Regions from separate parts of the Homo sapiens genome. Here region 2 is reported to be linked to region 1. Evidence: microRNA targets listed by miRTarBase, many of them from high-throughput screens and not tested one by one. Region 1 holds a microRNA gene; the other region holds the end of a gene's coding sequence.
Evidence for each region. The annotated mature microRNA hsa-miR-124-3p reads UAAGGCACGCGGUGAAUGCCAA and lies in region 1 at 2,649-2,670, shown strand. An mRNA with a match to its seed (bases 2 to 7 or 8) in the 3' UTR can be bound and repressed. Matches are read on the target gene's strand: a 7mer-m8 pairs with bases 2 to 8, a 7mer-A1 pairs with bases 2 to 7 and ends in A, and an 8mer does both.

Region 2: the mRNA of PREB is a reported target of hsa-miR-124-3p. The part of its 3' UTR that is shown has no 7-base or 8-base seed match.

The regions. Positions count from the first base shown.
Region 1 is chr8:9,902,069-9,906,068 of GRCh38, reverse strand. It overlaps MIR124-1 (microRNA 124-1), which reads left to right and starts at 2,597; the gene lies at 2,597-2,681. MIR124-1HG (MIR124-1 host gene) reads left to right here and starts at 2,740. Exons shown (of 3, transcript NR_024281.1): 1 at 2,740-4,000. It overlaps LOC124902057 (a long non-coding RNA gene), which reads left to right. Exons shown (of 4, transcript XR_007061170.1): 2 at 707-910; 3 at 1,441-1,537; 4 at 1,882-1,999.
Region 2 is chr2:27,128,035-27,132,034 of GRCh38, forward strand. It overlaps PREB (prolactin regulatory element binding), which reads right to left. Exons shown (of 9, transcript NM_013388.6): 7 at 3,976-4,000; 8 at 3,638-3,797; 9 at 2,722-3,474. The coding sequence ends at 3,380. ABHD1 (abhydrolase domain containing 1) reads left to right here. Exons shown (of 9, transcript NM_032604.4): 2 at 407-567; 3 at 911-1,093; 4 at 1,282-1,327; 5 at 1,480-1,592; 6 at 1,720-1,893; 7 at 2,071-2,119; 8 at 2,217-2,382; 9 at 2,499-2,778. The coding sequence ends at 2,710. Among named protein-coding and RNA genes, the nearest start is that of PREB, 4.6 kb to the right of the region's middle.

The DNA of each region.
Region 1 (4,000 bases):
CTCCTAATCCTCTTGTTTTCGGAACCGTCAGCAGATGCGGCTTCCTTTACCTGAATAATCCTTTAAAGGAGTAATAATTTTTAAAAAGGAGCTCGACCTCAGCCAAAGAGGACGGCGCACGAGATTAGGGCTTGGTAAGGAAAAATTAAAAGGCTCCCAATTCTCTCTGTCCCTCTCTGCCTTCCCCTCTACCCCTCCCCCTCCCTCCTCCACCCTCCCCTCCCCTCCCCCTTCTTCCTCATCCCCTGCAATCCGCGCTCGACGCGAGTTCACGCGAAGGGCTGGATTTCCAGGCGGCTCCGCAACTTGCGCGGCGCGGTGTTATTATTCATCCGAGGGTGCTGCCTCCTCAACCTTTGCCTCCTGCGCCGCTCTCCTTCCCCCGGCCGCCGCCGCCAGCAGTGCAGTCCCTCCGGCACGCATGCTCTGGTTCACCAAGAGGGAGACTGATTTTTTTTAAATCATGCTCATCATCATCATCATCATCATCATCATCATCATCACGTTCCTTATCATGGTTATCATTTCCTCCTGCCAGGTGGAGCGACCACCAGCGCCGGCTCGCCTCCTGCGCCTTCCCCAGCGAAGGCAGCAAGCAGTTCGGGCTTGGCCGTGGCGGCCGCTCCCAGGATGCTTCCTGCACCTCCAGCATCCCCCCCCTTATTCATCTGCCTGTGTATTATCTCGATCCTTTTCATTTCAGTAGATCCACTGCCTTTGGTTGGGCCGGCTGAATCGCTGGGGACTGCGGCCAGTCTCTTAAAAAAGGAGAACAAAAAGCCGAAGACCTTGTGTGGCCGCCGGGACAAAGCACCTTGGGTTCGGCGAGAAGGGACGCGCAGGAGCGCTGAACCCAGAACACGCGTGGCCGCTGCGGAAGGGCGTCCGCCCGGCGTGCGGAACGCTGAGGGTATTCGGATTGTCTTTTATTTGTCCCTGTGGCTTGCTTTCACAGTGTCTACGTAGGAGAGGGGTCGGGGTTGTTGGGGTCTCTTTTTTTTTCTGGGAGGGGTAGCTGAATTGTGGGAGACCTAGGTGGACTTGACTTGGCTTTCCTGCTACTCTGCGTCTCCTTCTCAAGATGCGGGGGTTGGAAAGGGGACAGGGGACTCAAGGCTTAGAAAAGAGAAGGAGCCCTCTGCTGCCTGGAGGGCTAAGGGAGTAGAGAGTGGAGATGGAGGTGAGTAGGGATGGGCCAGCCCGAAGAGCACTGAGGAGGAGAAGGGGTCTTCTCCTCCCTCGGGTCCAGTGGATGAGTTTTGCTGGGAATGAGAATTCGGGTGTCTGTCGATAGGAGCGCTGAGAAATTGATGAGAAATTGACATGTCCGTGCACATGCATGAGGCGGCGACAGGATTTGTGTGTAAACAGTGTGGAGAGGTGGAGGAGGGCATGGGGGTGGGGGCTTAAAATGATGTCTTATTGTCCTTTTGGCTTTAGGGACTCTCATCCTCTGTCTCGCCCCCTTTTTTTGACCCGGGGATCCAGCCGCATTATACACGAGTGACCTTTTAAATCTACGTCCACCCTTTACCTGGTAAAGCCCGCTGACAGTTGGGGGTGGGGTGGGGAGAGTGTAGGGGTGCTCTCTCCCTCTCTCCCTCCCTCCGCCTCTCCTCCCTCCCTCCCCCCTGCACTCCTCTCTCTTCCTCCCTCCCACCTCCCTCGCTCCCGCCCTCCCTGCTGCATTTTGCATGAGCTATCTAGGTCATTAGCATTTTAGCGTATGCAAGACTTGACAAAGCTGATGAGGGGCCAGATGGGCCTCGCTCTTATGGTTTTTTTTTCTTCTTCTTCTTCTTCTTCCTCTCTCTCTCTCTCTCTCTGTCTCTCTCTCTCTCGTCTCTCTTCCTTTCCCCCCTCCACCACTTGGGACCTGAGCGAGAGGACTGCAGCAGGCGAGTTCCGGAAGGCTGAATCCCCAGGTCCCAGCCCCGGACCGCGGCAACTCGCCCCTGCGGCACGCCCGGCCCGGCTGCGCCCCCACTCAGCGATGGAGGTAAAGAGGCGGCGGCCGCGCGCCCTGCCCCGGCTGCCGCTGCCGAGTCCCCGCTGCTCTCCTTGTCCTTCGCTCTCTTCTTCCTCCTCCTAGTCCCCTTCAGTTTCCTGGGCGAAGCAGAGGGCGACATGGGTGGGTGGGTTGCTGCGCTGGGGCGAGGTGGGGTCGATGTTGTTTTTTCATTGTCTGGAGCTGCAGGGGAGGCGAGGCGCGGGGAAAGGGGCGAGGGGAGCCGGGGTAATTAACACGGGGGAGGCACCCCTCCGTCTCCCACTTCCACCCACACCCCCATCCCTCCACCCCCTCCGCTTTGCAGGAAAAAGCCTGGATGCGAAAGGATGGGGGAGAACAAAGAGCCTTTGGAAGACGTCGCTGTTATCTCATTGTCTGTGTGATTGGGGGAGCTGCGGCGGGGAGGATGCTGTGGTCCCTTCCTCCGGCGTTCCCCACCCCCATCCCTCTCCCCGCTGTCAGTGCGCACGCACACGCGCCGCTTTTTATTTCTTTTTCCTGGTTTTCTTATTCCATCTTCTACCCACCCCTCTTCCTTTCTTTCACCTTTCCTTCCTTCCTTCCTCCTTTCCTTCCTCAGGAGAAAGGCCTCTCTCTCCGTGTTCACAGCGGACCTTGATTTAAATGTCCATACAATTAAGGCACGCGGTGAATGCCAAGAATGGGGCTGGCTGAGCACCGTGGGTCGGCGAGGGCCCGCCAAGGAAGGAGCGACCGACCGAGCCAGGCGCCCTCCGCAGACCTCCGCGCAGCGGCCGCGGGCGCGAGGGGAGGGGTCTGGAGCTCCCTCCGGCTGCCTGTCCCGCACCGGAGCCCGTGGGGTGGGGAGGTGTGCAGCCTGTGACAGACAGGGGCTTAGAGATGCAAACAGACTCAGGGAGAGAAACAGAAGCTGATTCTGTGACAGAAGCAGATCTGTGCAGCACAGATGCGGTGTGCGTGGGGAGGGGGTCGCCTGGGAGCGCATTGCGGAGTGCTTGTGTGTGCAGATTTTTCTCTGGGCTCAGGACTCATTGTATGTGGGTCAACACCTTCCTCCGTGACTGTGTTTTTGTTCTGAGCTGAGTTTTTTGGTTTGCCCTTAAAAAAATAATAATTTGGCATCCAGAGACTGGCAGACTGCCTCAGGGCCTGGACTGCGGATATATTGTGTTCTGCTTGAGGTTTGGGGAGGAGGGCAGGCGGTAGGAAGGGAGAGGGGGAGCTGTTTGTCACACTTTGCTGTAGAGCTGAGAGCACCTGACAAGCTTAAGGAAGTCGTTGGGCTATGTGGACAAGAAGGAGCCAGCTCCCAGCGGGTTCACAAGCTCTATCGGAGTTGAAAGCGTGGTCATGGCTCTAAGGAGCACCTCACGCCCTCCCTGTAGCTGTTATTGCAGTTTCAGGCAGAGATCCAGGAGCTGCAGAGGAAGGGAGAGGCACAATAACCTACATGGACCCAAGGGAGACATGTGTTCCTTTAAAAATGTGAACAGAAGGAAAAACAGAATGTGTGCAACTGGGGGTCTGAGGAAAGACTGTTTTGAAAGAGGCTGTCAGGGAATGGAAAGGGTTAAGCTTTTCATCCTGAAGAACCTGCTTCCCAAATCAGGCCTTCCTCCCATCACTAGACCCTGAGCAGCAGCTGGTCCTAGAGACCCCCCTCGTACTGCGCTGCCACAGTCTCATCCCATTTCCAGCTCTGTATTAACCACCAAGCTGCAGCGGATGGGGCAAGACCTAAGCTCATTAATTTCCAGGTGGAGGAAATGGAGGAGGGGCAGGTCCCTGCAGTAGAGGGAGGAGCAGAGAAAGGAGGCCAAGAGCTGGATCCTTCTGCCCAGGAAGCCTGCTGCATCCCTTCCCCCGAGCATGGCAGAGGCCTGGCTTTGCAAGGCCAAGGCCATAAGGGATGCTTAGGAGATTAATTTGATTCCTGACACAATAATCAAGCCCTAAGAGTCTCCACTGAAGCTTACTGAGGACTTCTTTCCTCTCCAAAGCCTCAGT
Region 2 (4,000 bases), not on the chromosome of region 1:
AACTCCTGGGCTCAAGTGATCCTCCCACCTCAGCCTCCCAAGTGGCTGGGACCACAGGCGCACACCACTGAGCGTGGCTGTTTACATCACCTGCTCTCTCCAAAATGGGTTTGGGGCATGGATAGGCTGAGCAGGAAAGTCAGCACTCAGTCAACTCAGCAGCTCCCAGTTCAGGGTCAATTCTGGGCAGTGACACTCCAGGACTGGGTTTTTTAGGGGCTCTAGCTGGAGTGTATTATCAGACTTGGCCATTCAACTGAGCTGTGCTGAGTATCTCACATGCAGACAAAGCAGGGTCCTCCAGGCTGGGCTCTGGAGAGGGGGCCCCCTCACCCTCTGGTGTTGGGTGCCTCACTAGCTTGGTGCAAAAGTCAGGGAAGTGGGGCAGACTGCTGTGTGATTACAGAGGCCTCGGCTGGTGGCTGGGCCGCAGTTTCTGGCCTTCCTGGAGCCACACTGTTCCATCACCACCGAGACTTTCTACCCAACGCTGTGGTGTTTTGAGGGGCGACTACAAAGCATCTTCCAAGTCCTCCTGCAGTCTCAGCCCCTAGTCCTTTATCAGAGGTAAGAAGGGACAGAACAGGGTGAACATGAAACCCCAGGTATCTAGGGAAAAACCTATCTACCACTTTTAAAATGTAGGTAATCTGCCTCATCTACATCCCTGTGTTGAGGGTTCAATGACAATGGATGTTATATGGAAGGGCTATATAATTGCACGGCCACCAGGTCATCTTTTATGTCCCCATCACACATTGTCAAGCCTTACTGTTTTACATGAAGAACACCCTCAGATGATGCTGACGGGAAGTGATAAGACTTGTTTGTGGGTGGGGCAGGGGGCAAAGCTTTTGAATTACATTAAGTTCTTAATAGTATCTTTGTGTGCCTCTTCCTCCAAAACCAGTGACATCCTCCAAACACCAGATGGAGGCCAGCTCCTGCTAGACTGGGCCAAGCAGCCTGACAGCAGCCAAGACCCTGATCCTACTACCCAGCCCATTGTGCTGCTGCTTCCTGGCATCACTGGCAGTAGCCAGGAGACATACGTCTTGCACCTAGTTAACCAAGCTCTGAGGGATGGCTACCAGTAAGGATGGGTGCAGCCCCAGAGTGGGGTGGCATCTGAGAACGTGTATTAGGGAGAAGTCAATCCGGACACTGATAGATAAGAAGAATGCTACACAAAGGGAGTCTTTGGACAGGGGTCTTTCTGAATACTGAAAGGGGAGAGGGGCTAAGAAGGGTCTGGCTAAGATGTACCTGTGTGTGCCACAGGGCTGTCGTGTTTAACAACCGGGGCTGCCGTGGGGAGGAACTGCGGGTGAGTAGCTGCCTTCCTCATAGCAGCCCTTCACCCACTCCCTTTAGAGATCCTTGGCCCTGGGGCTCACCTCCTACCTATCCTTCCTCAGTTTCCCCTCCACCTTCTGGCCACGGTCTCCCTCCCTACCCAATGATCTGGTTTGCCCTCAGACCCACAGGGCTTTTTGTGCCAGCAATACTGAAGATCTAGAGACAGTCGTGAACCACATAAAGCATCGTTATCCCCAAGCTCCACTGCTGGCCGTGGGCATCTCTTTTGGAGGGTAAAGATTGCCTGGGCTTAGCCCAGAGGCCCAGTCTTCCTTTTTTTCCTCCTCCATGTCCCCTTCCTCTGTCCCAACCCACATTAATGCAAACCCTTCTTTCATGGTCCCTTGTCCAATTCCACAGGATACTGGTGCTGAATCACCTGGCACAGGCCAGGCAGGCTGCAGGGCTGGTGGCAGCACTGACTCTGTCTGCATGCTGGGATTCCTTTGAGACCACTCGCTCCCTGGAAACCCCACTCAACTCACTGCTCTTCAATCAGCCCCTCACTGCTGGGCTCTGCCAACTTGTGGAACGGTAGGGTCGTGGCAAGTGGGAGGAGGCAGTAGACAGAGTAGGATGGCAGACACTCCAGGCTCTCCTAGTGCTTGGTCAGTTCTCTCTGGGCTTCCTCACACATGAGATAGTAAGACAGGGCCTGGGGGTGGGGGATCAGATCCAGGTGTCAAGCCAAACTCTTATGTACTTTTGCAGAAACAGAAAGGTGATTGAAAAGGTGGTGGACATAGACTTTGTACTACAGGTATAATATTCAGCCATGCCCCTGGTTCCCCCAAATGAGTCTTCCACTATCTTCCTATTCTTTATCATCTTAGCCTATCCTATGGTAAGACCTGCAGGCCCGTACAATCCGCCAGTTTGATGAGCGCTACACATCTGTGGCCTTTGGATATCAAGACTGTGTTACCTACTACAAAGCAGCAAGCCCTAGAACCAAGATAGATGCCATCCGGATCCCTGTGCTCTATCTCAGTGCAGCAGATGACCCCTTCTCCCCCGTCTGTGGTGAGTACTCTGATTCAGGACACTTTGGCCCCAAGGAAAATGGGCCATGAGGGACGCAACAGACAGCCTGGGCTCCCAGTGAAGGCCAGTGTTTCTAACCTCTGACCCTCTCCTAGCCCTTCCCATACAGGCCGCCCAACACTCCCCCTACGTTGCGCTGCTCATCACAGCCCGGGGTGGCCACATCGGCTTCCTGGAAGGGCTGCTCCCGTGGCAGCACTGGTACATGAGCCGCCTCTTGCATCAGTACGCCAAAGCCATCTTCCAGGACCCAGAGGGGCTGCCTGACCTCAGGGCTCTCTTACCTTCTGAGGACAGAAACAGCTGACAAGAGTACCATTTGGGGTCTCAGTTCACTCTTTCCTTGTTTATTAAATATCAACTTTTCCTGCCTAATGGGCTGAGGTTCATTTTCCCATTCCTCAAGGTAAGGGTAGACTACCTAGGAACTTATTGCATCTTTAGGCCAGCTGGCTTAGTGCTACCCATCTGAACCCCCAGATTACTACCCAAGTCTTCCTTTTGCCCCTTCCTGCCCTAACAGCAAGTACCAGGCCAGTCCCTTCCCCAGCAAATGCCAGGGGCTTCATGTGAAGAGGAACTGGCCACAAGGCTGAGGGGAGGAGGAGAAACTGTTTCTGCAGGAAGGACAGCAGTGCCTCCAGGCTCTTGGGCATCTTCACATGTTTCTAGATAAGGACAAGCTCAACTCTGGAGCCTCTGGTAGGCAGAAGAAAGGAGGCAGGGAGTATGGCCTGGGCTTCAGATACCGCTGTTCTGGATGGATCCACAGATGACGAAGGCAAGGTTCCTGGGACCTGGAGTCACACAGGGCCATAGCCAAGCCTTTTCACTAGAAGGGCAGGCAGTGCCCATTCATCTTGTCAGCGGCAACCTCAGCTGTGGACCCGAATGGAGTGAGCAAAGGGAGTCCAGGCCTCCACTCTGCTCTAGAGATGGCAGTGTCCAGGCTCCTGATTCCCAGGAAGCAGGGAAGCTAAAGGAAACCTGGAAAGGCACTCTGGAGCAGCAGGATGGTCACAATAATAAGCCCGACACACAGCAGGAGCAGGAGCCACACAGGAACACTCCCTGCAGGAGGGAAAGGGAGGAGGTCAGCGGGCAAAAGGGCTTCCCAGCCTGAAAACCAGAACCCTTCAAAGGAGGAGTGGCACAAAGAGCCCAGCCTCCGGGGGGCACGTTTCTGGTCATTAAACGTGGGGTGGTGCCTGCCTGCCCTGCCCCAATGACTCACGCCGTGAGGGCAACAGATGCAGCTGGCAACGACTGTCCACAGCCACAGAGAACAGGGCAGTTTCATGGGACCCAAGGAGCTCTGGACCACGACCCTTCTCAGGTAGAAAGGCCACATCCGTCACCACAATGCCATGGGCCTCCCTCACGTAGTAGAGGCACTGTGGGCAGAAGGAATACCAGTGAGGAAAGGCCTAGCTGGGAACTCTCTTTCTGGAAAGCATGTTCCCCACCCCCAGGATTTCCCTCGATAGGATGGGCCAGACTCCTTCCTGCAAACTCAGGGTAGAGACAGGCCTACAGTCCACCCACAGGGCCATGCCAACCTCCACCCATTACCTGGAGAGAGAAAGCTATGTAGATG